Linked DNA regions of Homo sapiens: regions 1 and 3 are each linked to region 2. The links come from fine-mapping of genetic effects on gene expression. A gene starts in region 2. Each other region holds a variant in brackets. All regions are shown on one strand. Distances are from middle to middle. Region 1 overlaps USH1C (USH1 protein network component harmonin). Region 2 holds the start of KCNJ11 (potassium inwardly rectifying channel subfamily J member 11). Region 3 overlaps ABCC8 (ATP binding cassette subfamily C member 8).

The links. PIP is the estimated chance that this variant, and not a neighbour inherited with it, causes the effect. A credible set is the group of variants that fine-mapping cannot tell apart.
Region 1: its variant is the best candidate, but not a certain one, in a credible set for the expression of KCNJ11 in thyroid (GTEx, PIP 0.53).
Region 3: its variant is the best candidate, but not a certain one, in a credible set for the expression of KCNJ11 in putamen (Braineac2, PIP 0.50).

The regions. Positions count from the first base shown.
Region 1 is chr11:17,523,621-17,526,332 of GRCh38, reverse strand. USH1C (USH1 protein network component harmonin) reads left to right here. Exons shown (of 27, transcript NM_153676.4): 9 at 1,798-1,882. Among named protein-coding and RNA genes, the nearest start is that of USH1C, 19 kb to the left of the region's middle. The variant A/G (reference allele first, on the strand shown) is at 1,502.
Region 2 is chr11:17,387,313-17,390,048 of GRCh38, reverse strand. It overlaps KCNJ11 (potassium inwardly rectifying channel subfamily J member 11), which reads left to right and starts at 1,390. Exons shown (of 1, transcript NM_000525.4): 1 at 1,390-2,736. The coding sequence starts at 1,958. RefSeq lists silencers at 310-409, 490-999 and an enhancer at 2,208-2,736.
Region 3 is chr11:17,427,256-17,430,011 of GRCh38, reverse strand. ABCC8 (ATP binding cassette subfamily C member 8) reads left to right here. Exons shown (of 39, transcript NM_000352.6): 13 at 1,342-1,447; 14 at 1,607-1,723; 15 at 2,070-2,145. Among named protein-coding and RNA genes, the nearest start is that of KCNJ11, 40 kb to the right of the region's middle. The variant G/A (reference allele first, on the strand shown) is at 1,630.

The DNA of each region.
Region 1 (2,712 bases), 140 kb before region 2:
TGCCCTGGGGTCATTCGTGGCCAGTGCACCCCAGCAGGCCCCTATTGCCCTCCCCTTCCTCACTGCCACTTCCGAGGAAACCTTGCCCACCAGGGGTGTGACTGTCCATGGGTGATGATACTTTTTTTGTTAGATACAGGGTCTGACTCTGTTGCCCAGGCTGGAGTGCAGTGGCATGATCATAGCTCACTGTAGCCTCAACCTCCCCAGCTCAAGCAATCCTCCCACCTCAGCCTCCTGAGTAGCTGGATCTACAGGAACACACTGCCATACCCAGCTAACTTTTAATTTTTTTGTAGAGATGGAGTTTTGTTATGTTGCCCAGGCTGGTCTCAAACTCCTGGGCTCAAGTGATCCTCCCACCTCAGCCTCCCAAAGCCCTGGGATTAGAGGCATGAAGCACCGCACCCAGCCTTGGTGTTGACACTTCTTGGTGCCTGATTTCCCCTCTGAACTTCATGACAGGCCTTTAGGGCCAGAGGGTCATCTCTAACAGAGCCCAATTTACAGATGAGGAAATTGAGGCCCAGAGGCAGAACAGTGTTACCTTGTGGGCCCTTGAGTCACTGCAAAAGGAGCCTGTTTGGCTGGTCATCTCTGTCACAGCTCTCTTGTCACTTATTAACTTGTTGGCTTCCTTAAGAGGCAGACAGGGAATTCCGAACAGACACTGGGCCACACGGGGCTTAAGCATGCAGGTGCCACCGTTACTCAGATCCCAGTTCCAGCCCTGCTTTCCCACTTAAGAGCTCTGGAACCTTGGGCCAGTTACTTAACCACTTTGAGCCTCAGTTTCTCCCTCTATAAATGGGCGATAATAATTCCCACATCACAGGGTGGTTGTGGAGAAAGTAAAGTGCCAAACTTAGTACCTGCTAAATAGTAAGCAGTTGGTAAATATTAGCTATTATTATTTAAGTTATCCCTGTTCTTTCCTTTCATTCACATTTATTCAATGTTTTGTGCCAAGCACAAGTGATAAAAAGTCCCACCTTTCTGGGAGACAACAGCCTAATCTAGAAGCCAACCAAGTAAATAGTTATAATATAGGGTGATAGGGACTCGAACGGGACTACATTCTGCGTCCAGGATGGCAAATAGGTGCCATCTCTAGTCAATGAGTAGCAGCTCCCTGGAGTGCTGCTTTGAAAAGCATTCTAAAGCTGTATCCAGGATTGTGGGAAAGAGTGCTGTGATCAATGAGTGACTTCTGCCACCAATCTAGGAAGGAATACTAACAGTACATGTACCATCCTTGCCGTAAATGTCATAGGAGCACTGAGAACAGAGCGGCTAGTTTAGTCTTGGGATAGAATAAGGGATCTGAGCCAGGCATGGTGGTGCACACCTGTAGTCGCAGCTAGGCTGAGGTGGGAAGATTGCTTGATCCCAGGAGTTGGAGGTTGCAGAGAGCTATGATCACACCACTGCACTCCAACCTGGGTGACAGAGCAAGACCCTGTCTCTAAAAAATAAATTTAAAAAAATAAGAGGATCTGGT[A/G]AAAACCTTATAGAAGGGATAGCATTTGAGTCTTAATGGATGGACAGGAAAGTGCTAGAAAGAAAGAAGAAACAGCATATGAGGTATATTAGGTGAGAGGTTGGGTAGGAAGAATTACAAGGATTTTTCTGTGGCTGTTGCCCAGGGTAGCAGTAGAAATCAGGCTGGAGAGGGACACAGAGGCTGAAGAGGTAGGCAGTCAAGGGCCTTCAGTCCTCAGCTCATGAGTGACCTGTATCCTGAGCACTGGACATGGGTTACCTGAATCCCGAGCACACATTTCCCACCTCCCGCAGCATTTCCAGCGGCCCCATCCAGAAGCCTGGCATCTTTATCAGCCATGTGAAACCTGGCTCCCTGTCTGCTGAGGTGGGATTGGAGGTGAGTGACGCTGGGCCGGCCCCAGTGGGGGCCCACTGGAAATTGGGTCAGACTGTGATCCCGCGGTGACAGGGGCAGGTGCCTTTCCACATGGCCCTCTTTCAGTGGACACTGAGGGAGTAGGAGCCCTACCCACCCTGCAGAGAAGGCTTCACAGACTGGGGATGTTTGACCCTTCTGCAGCCTTCCCCAGCTCTGATAGTTGTTGGTCACGAGCTTGGGAATGTCGTAATGGTAATCAAAGAGCGGACCTTCAGTGTCCACTTGCATCAGACATTGTTCCATGCCCTTTACACTTCACAAGAATGCTGAGGGTTAAGTACCACCATTATCCCCACTTTACATATGAGGAAACTGAGACCCAGAGAAAGTATATGATTTTTCCAAAATCGTGTACCTCATATGGTAGGGCTGGGATTCAAACCTAGGTGGTCCAATCCCAAAGCAGGAACCCTTAACCTCTTCTTTGGACAAGTTACTTCATGTCTGTTTGCTTACCTGTAAGATGGGGATAATACAGGCTTTCTTCCAAGGTTGTTGTGTGGGTTAAAGTAATTAATATGTATACTAGAGCTGTGCCAAGCACATTGTAAGTGATCAGTGAATGTTAGCTATTCTGTTATGACGATTCAACACAGCCTGTGCTAAATGAGAAGCTCAAAGGTTCCCGCATCTGCAAACTGTGATTTTTAAAGCAAATGTCATCAAATTTAGCCAAAGAAATGAACATGTAATGGTATAATATTTGATAGTTGATAAGATAGTTATGAAGTAGGGGAGTGCCAGGGTCAGCTTTAAGCCCTCCCAGAGCTCCACCAGAGCTTTCCAAC
Region 2 (2,736 bases):
AATACCACCCATGACCTAACGTGGAAGAAGTCAGGTGACAGGTGTGAGAAAGTGTAAAGCAAGTGGCCTCGGCTCAAACCTTCTTTAAAGTAGGGCCGGAATGGCTGAGAAGATGGAGCCGCCCAGGCTGCCCCACAGCAGTAGCAGGTGTTAAACTGTGCTCCTTTCCTGCCGAGGCCTTTTTTTTTTTTTTTTTTTTTTTTTTTTTTAATGAGAGGGAGTCTGAGCTTCCATCAGATTGTCAAAGGATTCAAGACTAAGATTAAGAGCATCCCCCAAAGAGAAGCAGCTGCAGGTTGAGAAGTCCTCGGACCGCCTAATTTCCGCCAGCCCTGGGATTGGTGGCGCCGCCTCTCAGCGCCTCCTTTCCCGGGGAACCTGCAAACCTGGCGCGGCCGAGAGGCGGATTACTGACCCAAATACGGATGGGGATATTGGGGGAGGGGAGCCAGGGCGACAGGGCGGCGGCCCCAGACTGGGAGGGCGGGTCACAGATCCCTCCCAGCCCCCCACTTTCGTAGAGCGTGGGCAGGAGGAACCTCTGGGTTCCGCGGATCAGAAAAACTCCAAAGGCCGGGTTGTGAGTCCCGGGAGGGGAGGTGGAGGGCGGGGGCGGGGAGGGGCGCGGGAGGGGCGGGGGCTTGCTCCGGCCCCGCCCCCTGCGCTCCGGTGCAGGTCGGGCTCCCCCTGGCGGTCCCCGGCCCCGTTCCTCTCCTCGTGCGCCCCCCTCCCGCCGTCCTAGACCCCTGCCTAGCCCAGGTCGGTCTCCGCGGACCCACGGACGGACAGACAGACGGGAGGACGGCCAGCCGCGAGCGCCCGGGCGGCGGGAGGGGGCGGGGAGGCGACGGCCGTGGCGTGAGGAGCAGGAGCAGGTGCAGCGGCGGCGGCGGGCGGGGCCGGGACCCGGCGCGGAGCGGGAGCCGCGGCGCGGGCGGGCGGCAGGGACCGGGAGGCCGCGACTCGGAGTCAGCCCCGCCGGGTCGCGCGCAGGTCCGGGGAGCCGCGGTTGAGCCGGGTGGGGTGGTGACTCCAGAGAACGCAGGATCCCAAGGAGACAGAGAGGACGAGAGCTGGAGGGGGATCCGGAAAGCGGCGGGGGCGCTCCGGGAGGGGTGGAGTAGGACATAGGGGGCGCACCTGGAGGAGAGACGGGGCGGGGGTGGCCAGGACCTGAGCTGGAGCCTGGGAGCCCGAAGGCCAGACAGGTGAGGCGGGAGACCCGGAGGTGGGGGTGAGGTCCGGTTAGTGGGAGAGATCCGGAGGTGTTAAGTTCTGAGCTGGGCTGGGAAGGCAGGCTGGGCGGGGAGAAGGGCTCTTAGCGGGAGGCCCAGGGGTGGTCAGCTGGTGGGGGAAGCTGGGGGAGGACGCAGGGCCAGGTGGAGAGCCGGCAGGGTTGGGGGCTCCCTAGGCGCCAGGCAGGTGGGCTCAAGGGTGAGGCTGTTTTTTTTGTTTTGTTTTTTGTTTTTGAGACGGAGTCTCGCTCTGTCGCCCAGGCTGGAGTGCAGTGGCGTGATCTTGGCTCACTGCAACCTCCGCCTCTCGGGTTCAAGCGATTCTCCTGCCTCAGCTTCCTGAGTAGCTGGGATTACAGGTGCGCACCACCATGCCCGGCTAACTTTTGTATTTTTAGTAGAGATGGGGTTTCACCATGTTGGTCAGGCTGGTCTCGAACTCCTGACCTAGTGATCTGCCCTCCTCAGCCTCCCAACGTACTGGGATTACAGGCGTGAGCCACCGCGCCCGGCCTGAGGCTGGTATTAAGAAGTGAAGTGGGACCCAGGTGGAGGTAAGGAAGAGTCTGGTGGGGAGTTATCTCAGAAGTGAGGCCAGCACAGGCTGAGTGCAGCCCCAGGGTGAGAAGGTGCCCACCGAGAGGACTCTGCAGTGAGGCCCTAGGCCACGTCCGAGGGGTGCCTCCGATGGGGGAAGCCCCTCCCTGGGGGTCACCGGAGCCATGCTGTCCCGCAAGGGCATCATCCCCGAGGAATACGTGCTGACACGCCTGGCAGAGGACCCTGCCAAGCCCAGGTACCGTGCCCGCCAGCGGAGGGCCCGCTTTGTGTCCAAGAAAGGCAACTGCAACGTGGCCCACAAGAACATCCGGGAGCAGGGCCGCTTCCTGCAGGACGTGTTCACCACGCTGGTGGACCTCAAGTGGCCACACACATTGCTCATCTTCACCATGTCCTTCCTGTGCAGCTGGCTGCTCTTCGCCATGGCCTGGTGGCTCATCGCCTTCGCCCACGGTGACCTGGCCCCCAGCGAGGGCACTGCTGAGCCCTGTGTCACCAGCATCCACTCCTTCTCGTCTGCCTTCCTTTTCTCCATTGAGGTCCAAGTGACTATTGGCTTTGGGGGGCGCATGGTGACTGAGGAGTGCCCACTGGCCATCCTGATCCTCATCGTGCAGAACATCGTGGGGCTCATGATCAACGCCATCATGCTTGGCTGCATCTTCATGAAGACTGCCCAAGCCCACCGCAGGGCTGAGACCCTCATCTTCAGCAAGCATGCGGTGATCGCCCTGCGCCACGGCCGCCTCTGCTTCATGCTACGTGTGGGTGACCTCCGCAAGAGCATGATCATCAGCGCCACCATCCACATGCAGGTGGTACGCAAGACCACCAGCCCCGAGGGCGAGGTGGTGCCCCTCCACCAGGTGGACATCCCCATGGAGAACGGCGTGGGTGGCAACAGCATCTTCCTGGTGGCCCCGCTGATCATCTACCATGT
Region 3 (2,756 bases), 40 kb before region 2:
ACACCCCTGTCTCATGGGACCCTGGCAGGTACTGGGAAGCTGGAAGGAAGGAGTAGCTGTTGGAATGAAGTAGCTGATAGAGAGGGTAGCTTGCAGGGGGAGACTCTAGCATGGGTTCAAAGATGGAATGGGGCATAACTCAGCAAAATTATGCTCTAAGGAGTATCTGACCAGGCAGTAGCTGGTTAAACAGGGATTAGCTCCCATTTCCACAGTCGGCTGTGCTGACTCAGTTTCTTGACCAGGGTGTTGTGGGGTCTGAAGATCACCCCTCCTCCCACCACCCACTCTCCAGCCCTATGATTCTGTGTAGAAACCACAGATTTAAGAACGCTGCACCTGCCTGAAAACTGTTGCACTGATCCCAAAGCGTTCATATTTTCAAACACTCTGGATCCCACTGTTTCCAGGAATGGAACACCAGAGTAGCAGAGGCCTTTTCAGTGAGGCAGCTCAGGCTCTGGCTGAAGGTGGGCGCAGGACACTACCTGAAGCTTCACCCCAAGAGATGAGGGCCAGCTCCACTCTTCCCAGTCACCGCCTGTGGGGGAGGGAGGCTGGACAGGGCATGAAGGCAGAGCCTGGTGGTCTGCCCCTCCCATCTAGGGGTGGCGCACAGAAAGGGAGACTCCAGGCCACAGCTCACTTACACCCCAGAATAACCTTGCCTTGAGGGTGGGATGGCTTGTCTGCCCCAGGCCTGTTGGACATTTAGCAAAAGAGAAGAAAGGGGAATACAAACAATCCTGAGCTTCCCAGAAAGCTTTCACACCTCCAGGATGGGAGAGAATGAACTAGAAGAGTGAAGCTTCCAGTGCTTCCTCAGGTCCACAGGGAAATCTGGACAGGGGAGAGGGTAGGAATAGCCGCCTCCCCCGTGAGTAATGACACCTCCTCCAGCAGGCTGTTATGGGGATCCGATTACATAATGCTACAAAACAGTTAACACAGTGTCTGGCATTTAGTGTATGCTCACAAAATACTAGCTATTGATTCTTTACCAATCCTAGTCCTAACTAACCTTAACCCTGACCAATCCAACACCAACCATCCTTCAGTCTAATAACCCAGACTAACTAACTTCAACATTAACCCTAAAACTAACCAATCTCACCTCCAATCCAGACCCCAGCCTATTCCAGCTGACTGGTCAACCCTAGCAAACCCTGGTAACACCAATTACCTGCCCCCATGCCCACTGGTCTGCCCCCTTCAGTGTGGGCTTTGTGGGACTATACTTCAGGCCTGAGATCCTGCTCAGAGCTCTCTATCAGGCTGCGCCCTCTCCCCTCCCCTCTGCCCCTGGCAGGGGTGAGGGGTGTCTCTGTGCTTCCCGAGCAGCGTGCAAAAGCTAAGCGAGTTCCTGTCCAGTGCAGAGATCCGTGAGGAGCAGTGTGCCCCCCATGAGCCCACACCTCAGGGCCCAGCCAGCAAGTACCAGGCGGTGGTGAGTGCCCGGCCTCCCCTTGCTACTCCCAGCATGGTCCTCTAAGGCCCAAAACTTGGGCCTGCTGTGTCGGACTTCTGCCTTTTTTCCCAGGAAGAGGGGCTCCCTTCCCTACACAGCTCCCAGCCCAGTGGGTCCTCACCTCCAAACCACCCCCAGCCCCTCAGGGTTGTGAACCGCAA[G/A]CGTCCAGCCCGGGAGGATTGTCGGGGCCTCACCGGCCCACTGCAGAGCCTGGTCCCCAGTGCAGATGGCGATGCTGACAACTGCTGTGTCCAGGTGAGTCCTGCTGCCCCATGCCTGGCCACCCAGCACCAACTCCCAGAGGGAGCTCAGCACCTGGAAAGCCAGAAAGCTGCATGCTTAGTCCTCTGCAGAGGTCACCCTGCCTGCCTGTACGGTCCATAGGAGTCCAGAAACCAGGGACCACCAAGTGGGGGGACCCCCAGCCTTAGGCAAGGGTCAGCATGAGAAGGCCAGTCTCCCACTCCCCTGCTCTGGAAGTGATCCAGGGGCTGGAATCAGTGTCTTTTGGCTTTCATGGAGGAGGGGAAGCCAGAGACTATTCACTGGGAACTGGCTGCCTTTCTGTTCTCTCCTGGGCGGTGGGACACGCCTAATGAAGATCATGGGAGGCTACTTCACGTGGACCCCAGATGGAATCCCCACACTGTCCAACATCACCATTCGTATCCCCCGAGGTATGGCCCAGTCCACCCCTCCAGCATGCCCCTCCCCATGTCCCACTGAATAACATAGAGATAAAAAGACAAAGCTGCATTTATTGAGCACCTACTCTCTGCTCATTCTTGGTGTATGCCCTGGGTATATTATAGAAGGGGAAGGCTACATTCTAGAGGCTTCCGTGTGCTGGGTGGGAGTGAAGCACTAAGGACAGGGTAAAATTGCCAGCCTTAATGTCAAACCATCCATTGCAGACAGTATAGGTAATGCACAAAAAGATCAGAAGTGGGTAGCCAAGGAACGCAAGTGGAAGTGATGGGGTTTCTGAGAATGGACAAAGGCCCTGAGGCCATGAGGCAGGAGGATTTTCTGGCAGAGGCAGCCATGAGCAAAGTATGGAGGTGGGTTGGAGGTGGGACCCAGGATGGTGTTTCTTGGGACCACAAGGAGCCTGGGCTCATACTAGGAGCATGGGAAAGGAGAAGCGAGTGCTTAGGAAGGGTGGCGGGGCAGGAAATCAGAGAGGGGGAAGGACCTGGGGAGCCAGAGGAGGATGTTGATTTCCAGAAGGAAAGGATTAAAGAGGGAGAGGACTTGCTGGGGATTCTAGGTAGGAAGAAAGAAAACA